Linked DNA regions of Homo sapiens. The protein of the gene in region 1 purifies or fractionates together with the protein of each later gene. This does not show direct contact. Each region holds a gene or a part of one and is shown on either strand. Other genes may lie near its edges. The genes, in order: MATN3 and DNAJC10.

Region 1 (3,828 bases):
ACGGCCCCTGGAATTCACCAAAGTGAAAACTTTTGTCTCCCGGATAATCGACACTCTGGACATTGGGCCAGCCGACACGCGGGTGGCAGTGGTGAACTATGCTAGCACTGTGAAGATCGAGTTCCAACTCCAGGCCTACACAGATAAGCAGTCCCTGAAGCAGGCCGTGGGTCGAATCACACCCTTGTCAACAGGCACCATGTCAGGCCTAGCCATCCAGACAGCAATGGACGAAGCCTTCACAGTGGAGGCAGGGGCTCGAGAGCCCTCTTCTAACATCCCTAAGGTGGCCATCATTGTTACAGATGGGAGGCCCCAGGACCAGGTGAATGAGGTGGCGGCTCGGGCCCAAGCATCTGGTATTGAGCTCTATGCTGTGGGCGTGGACCGGGCAGACATGGCGTCCCTCAAGATGATGGCCAGTGAGCCCCTAGAGGAGCATGTTTTCTACGTGGAGACCTATGGGGTCATTGAGAAACTTTCCTCTAGATTCCAGGAAACCTTCTGTGGTAAGTTGGTCAGTCTTTGCTTCCAACTAGAAAGGATGTTATATTCAGACATTGTGTACCCAGAGAAAAGAGTATTATTCTTTTTTGGTGGAAATTTAATGAAAAACTTAAATATATCCAATGCGTGTGTGTGTGTGCACGTGTGCATGCGCGCGTGTGTGCGACCAACCTAAACACACTCTATTGGTTTAGGAATATAGAGCTGCATTATATGGAACTTGGTTTGCTCATAAAATCTTCATGTTTGCGTTAGAACTGTGAAGGTCTGCAAATATCCAGGATAAATGACCCTGCTGTTCCCTGTCAGGGTCAGGAAAAACAAAACTCAAGATGCCTCTCCTGTCCCCTCTGCCCCACCACTACATTTTTTTCCCCTGATACATATTTTTTTAGTTTTACCATCTCTAGATCTAACAGAACTCTGTTTGTTCTCCTGCAGAAGACAGGGAGAAGCGTCTGTCCTTGGGAGAGTCAGCAGGCCTCTATTCCAATGTCACCGTCAGCCCGAGTGTGCATTTAGTGAATGCTCTGGTTTTCAGACTGGGCTGTTTATCTGATTACTCTTTGTTGAAGAACAGGATTCAGGGACCAGGCAGATTAGGGTTTCAGCTCACTTGAAAGAAAGCAAGATGATCTTAAGAAATCATTCTGTTAACTCTGCTACTCCTTCCATCCTTTAGGATGGAATTTGAATAAGGACATGCTAATTTTATTGGAATTTTTAGCATGAATTGACCAAATCTAGGACTACAGATCCATTCAATGCTGGAGTTTAATTTTAGTCACTGATCAGAATTATGATCTGTGGGACTCATGCTTTATTTTTTTATCATCTGGAGATAATCTTTTGTTCCCTCTATGTGAATATCCAAGCAGTTGTGGACAAATTTCTAGTTCAGGTGAATTTTTAAACATAGATATCTTTTTGCAATATAATTTATTTCACACTTATTTATTCAGCATGCATTTATTGATCTCTGATGATACAAAGATAAAGGTAATCCCTCCATACCATTAAGTAACATTCTGGGGGTGGGGGTGAGACAAACAAATGAACCAATAATTAATTACAATTATACATTTCAAGGAGACTTTTAATCTAGGTTAATGTGAAACGCAGCCATCAATGGTTTGTCAGGAAAAGGGAGATGAAGTCTTGCTCTGGGGCAACGTTTGGCCTCATTGCAGTCAGACTTGGCTGGGATCCCCTTGTCTTTCCTGTCCCAGGACACTGGGCTTTCACAAGCCATCACTGGCTTTGGTGGCATCTACTTGGCATTCGTTGGCTTCCAAAAAGAAAGTGGCTTTCTTTCTCCCAGGAAATCACCCTCCCACTCCATGCTTGTGGGTGAGAGCCTCTCCATCAACATGCTGGTCTGTGGCAAAGTTGGGTTTCAAAGCTAGCACCTGGGGTTGGGCTTCGAAGGCTATAAAGTAACAAGTGGTGAGTGGCAATCTTTTCCTTCTGGTACAAAAGACCTGCTTGTTCTGGGGGAAAAACGTCCTCTCTATGGAAAAAAGACTGAGCGGCAGCTTGTTGTAGTCAACGGGTTGGAAAGATCATTCCATGAAAAGGCCCTTCTTGGGAAAATATTAGCCTTGTCCTGTTGCCAAGGGCAGTGGAGGTTGGGTTACCTGCCACAGGAGGGCCAGCCTCCTTCAACAGGCCTCCTTGGTTTCTCAGAAATGACTTAATTCATTGATTCATCTTTCAAAAGAGGTCACTAGGAAAAAAATATCCAATGAGATATAAATGGCTCCAGGAGCAATAAGATGGAGATGTAGTTTAGCTAATGTAATCTCATTTATTTTGTTCTTTTCTTTTTACCTGTTTGTATTAGCATATGAGTTCACTATGGATTTAGCGTATGGATGACTTCACCCACCTTACATATTCAGAAGACAGTTACCCGAACTGTCCTCTACCATTTGCATGTTCAAATATGTACCACTGCCCACCTGTGAGTTCGTTCTAGGCTTAGACCCAGACTTGTGTGAGAATTCTGTTTAGACATAGGCTATAGAACCTTGGAAATCAGATTCTGGCTACAATGGGACAACTAGCTCACGTCACTTCAGGCTGTGCATTTATTGTTCTCCCATTTCTTGTGGTGGGGAAGCACAAATCTTTTTTTCATGGGGAGGCGGATAAGCCAAATAAAACATCCAATTGCCTGGCCTATGTAAGTGTTTGGCTTCAGCTCCAAACTCCAAATTCCCTTTCTCCCTTGAGAAAGTCTATATAGCAAGATGTGTACTTTTAAATTAGCAACAATTTCTAGTTTAAGAGTAGCATTGCTAATAAGCCAGAGGCAGAAAACAAATAACCATTTTTTTATAGTGAAGTAAAGATGGACTCGGAAAGGAGCCCAGAGAGCAATGTCTATTGACATGGGAGACGGTATCTGAGATGTTTCCTAAGTGTCAGTGCTGACTGTTGTAAACTTCCTCTCACAGCGCTGGACCCCTGTGTGCTTGGAACACACCAGTGCCAGCACGTCTGCATCAGTGATGGGGAAGGCAAGCACCACTGTGAGTGTAGCCAAGGATACACCTTGAATGCCGACAAGAAAACGTGTTCAGGTGAGGCCTGTGTAGGGGGCCGTGACTGAATCAAATACTTGGGAACCTATGCTCCAGGTTTTGGACTGGCCTTGTGCTTTGACTCTCTGACCCCTTTTTACCTAACTGCCTTTTGGCTGGTTTACTGGTGTTCATCAGCAGTTTTCCCTGAAAAGGAGCTTAGGGAGAAAAGTGAAATGATAGATAAATCAGCTTATTTCCATACTTTGTAAGTTTTAAATAAAATCGTAGGAGAAAAGGCTACTAAGAAAGAGGTCCAGGCTGAGTGCAGTAGCTCATGCCTATAATTCCCACATTTTGGGAGGCTGAGATGGTAGGATAGTTTGAGGCTAATTCGAGATTAGCCTCGAGAACATGGTGAGACCCCATCTCTACAAAAAATAATTTAAAAAAAAAAGCCAGGTGTGGTGGTGCATGCCTGTAGTCCCAGTTACTTGGGAGGCCGAGATGGGAGGATTGTTTGAGACCAGGAGGTCGAGGCTGCAGTGAGCTATGATAATGCCTCTGCTGCACTGCCACAGAGGGAGACCTTCTTTCAGAAAACAGAACCCACACACACAAAAAGGAAAAGAAACGGGTCCAAGATTCTTAGCCCTTTTGAGGATTTGAAAATTTTCCTGGATTTTATTTCATTACATGCAAGCTACCCTCTTCCTCTCTAGTCATAGATGCTCATGGAATCTAGAAGTAGCAAAGAAGTTAGAGGGGTACTCACTGGTCTGGTACATAGATACAT
Region 2 (3,182 bases), about 160 Mb from region 1:
TGTAAGTGAAATCATACACCATTTATCTTTTTGTGATTCCTTATTTTACTTAGCGTAAGTCCTCGAGACTCACCCATGTTGTAGCATGTGTCATAATTTTCTTGTTTTGAGACGGAGTCTTACTCTGTCCCCCTGGCTGGAGTGCAGTGGTGTGATCTCAGCTCACTGCAACCTCCACCTCCCAGGTTCAAGCGATTCTCCTGCCTCACCCTCCCAAGTAGCTGGGACTGCAGGCATGTGCCACCACGCTGGCTAATTTTTGTATGTTTAACGGAGACAAGGTTTTAGTGTGTTGGCCAGGCTGGTCTCGAACTCTTGACCTCAGGTGATCCGCCTGCCTTGGTCTCCCAAAGTGCTGGGATTACAGGCGTGAGCCACCGCACCCAGCCAATTTTCTTCCTTTTTAAGGCTGAATAATATTCAATTATATATACATTCTACATTTTGTTATTCGTCCGTTGATAGGCTGCCTTCACCCTTTGGCCATTGCAAATAATGCTGCTATAAACATGGGTGTACAAATATCAGAAACCCTGCTTTCAGTTCTTTCAGCTATATACCTAGAAGTGTAAGTCTATATCATAGTAATTCTATTTTTAATATGGGGGGACCTCCATACTGTTTTTCATAGCAGCTGCACCATTTTACATTCCCACCAATAGTGCACAAGAGTTCTGATTTTTCCACATCCTCACCAACACTCATTTTTTTTAAATAGTAGGTATCCCAATGAGTGTGCGTTCATATCCCATTGGAGTTTTGATTTGTACTTTTAGAGTCTTTAAATTATTACTTTTTCCATATCAAAGTACTTTGTGGGAAGTTGGTTATTTTACATTCTCATACCATGCTTTGTATTACTTTCCCATTTGGATGCCCTTTTCATCCTTCACCTCATCCTGTAAACCCAAAATCTAACTTAAATCCCAAATCCAACTTCCACTGTAAAGCCTTTGCTGACTTCTTTACTTCACATTGATTTCTGAATTTCTAAAAGTTCCTCATTGTCTACCACAAAACTAAGTATTTGTTTATAAGAAAAAGCTTTATTTAGTCCTATATTATTCTCTGATTATTCCATATGTTATCTTCCAAACTAGATTGTTAGGTCTTCAAGAGCAGAAGAAATTTATTTTATACTTATAAACTTCAAGATTTGCTGAAGTACTTTGGGTGCTAAATGCTTCTAGCTTATTCGTTTAGTTTACATGACTTTCTGCATGTGAAACTTGAGAAAACTGCAAATCTAATACCTTGGTCTTACAGAACTGAACAATACTTAAATGTGTTTAAACCTGCTATATAAAATGTCAGATGTAAAAGCGAATATCTAATGAAGCACCTTTTCCCTTTTCTAAAATTCAATAGTAAGGGCCAGGCACAGTGGCTCACACCTGAAATCCCAGCGCTTTGGGAGGCCGAGGCGGGTGGATCCCTTGAGGTTAAGAGTTCAAGACCAGCCTGGCCAACATGGTGAAACGCCGTCTCTACTAAAAATACAAAAAAAAATGGCCAGGCGTGGTGGTGCACGCCTGTAATCCCAGCTACTTGGGAGTCTGAGACAGGAAAATCGCTTGAACCCGGGAGGCAGAGGTTACAGTGAGCTGAGGTCACGTCACTGTACTCCAGCCTGGGCAACAAGAGTGAAACTCTATCTCAAAAAAAAAAAAAAAAATTACAATAGTAATAATTATGCCTTCTAACACTAAAATCAAATAACCTTACTTATCAGTTACATTGCCTACTAAGCTGACTTATTTTCTGACTTTTCCTTTGCTTTATTCTCTTATTTCTTCCAAGTAACCATATTCTCTTTTACCCTCCTGTTCAACTGTCTATGCTCCTTCTCTCTTTGTTCACTATTTTGATATTTAAATGTTATGACTTATTTTCAAGTAAATATTTTTTTAATTTCTTCATTTGGGATAAAATATTCACTACATAAATTTAGTGGATAAATACCCCCACAGAGATCGACCCTGCATGAAATGTGTTCCCTCAGAAGTAGGGCAATTCATTCATTATGAGATCAAGCCATAAAATTTAAATCCAAGCAGTAATTCTCCAATTAAAGTAACTCTAGAGCTTAGTTTTCAGTCCTCCTGAATCATAACTAGTTGGCAACAAAAACTAGTATGCCTTGGTGTGAATAAACCTTAACATAGAAACTCACCCAGCCTCAAAAGTTAAAAATTAAGAGAGATATGTATTCAGGTGGCCATTTATACACAATATTTTTGAATACTATTCTGGCCAAATTAGTATAAAATGGGTTACTCTAAAATGAAATTTTAAAAGTATATAAACATCTTAAACTTTAAAACTTCAGCCCAGCTAGAAGTCAACGTGTGTTTCTGAAACTATGCTGGGGAAAGTAGCTCTGTCCATAATGATTATATAGTTGTTAGCAAAATATTGGTCAAAACTTTTTCAGTTTAATGAGTTTCAAGATATTCTTCAAACTGGCCTCTGTGAACTCTTTCTTGACAAGTGAAACCTGGCTCCAACAATGACTACTTTATTCTACCTCTCATTTATTTTCTGTTTAATAAATCCAGTATTTGGGCATACAAACTGTATACAACATTTTATAACACTCTAATGTGGATAAGACACCTCAAAAACAGGAGTTTAGTCATTTCAGTCACATGTTTCTAATACATGATAAGATTTGCAGTTATCGTTTAATTAATTGCAATATGGAAATAGATACTAAAAAATCTAAATTGCATCTTACATTTCAACAATGGATGTTTAAAGCGTTTAAAAGTTATGTTTTGCATTTTACAACATATTGAAGATACACATTTTAAATTTAACTCTAAACAATGCAATAATCTAGAGAATCAGAGAATTGGATCCTGAAACACCTTATAAGTTCAGTCCTGTTGATTAGTATGTTTCCCTGTCCTAGAGTGCATGAACTTTCAAAGCCAGGACACAATCTTGTTCACTTTTCATGCCATCATCTTGACACTCAATACATGTTCAAAGAGTAAATTAAAGAAAAAAGAGATGCTCAAGTCAATTTATAAGTAATCCTCACAAATGCTTGCATACCATCAGTGAACAATTATTTTTTTATCTCCATGCTATAATCTTGCACAAGTTTCATTAGAATTAAATGCACTATCTGAAGTCTATGTTTATTAAATGAGGATTACAGTAGTTGGTTATCTTTG

The links.
Region 2: the proteins of MATN3 (region 1) and DNAJC10 purify together in Homo sapiens (co-immunoprecipitation; one large-scale study listed by IntAct). This does not show direct contact.

What each region holds. Positions count from the first base shown.
Region 1 is NC_000002.12:20,002,425-20,006,252, reverse strand, and holds part of MATN3 (matrilin-3 precursor), read left to right. Parts: coding exon 1-509; intron 510-1,446; exon of another isoform or gene 1,447-2,233; intron 2,234-2,966; coding exon 2,967-3,092; intron 3,093-3,828. UniProt on the Homo sapiens protein: Major component of the extracellular matrix of cartilage and may play a role in the formation of extracellular filamentous networks.
Region 2 is NC_000002.12:182,789,132-182,792,313, forward strand, and holds part of DNAJC10 (dnaJ homolog subfamily C member 10 isoform 1 precursor), read left to right. Parts: 3' UTR 1-3,182. UniProt on the Homo sapiens protein: Endoplasmic reticulum disulfide reductase involved both in the correct folding of proteins and degradation of misfolded proteins.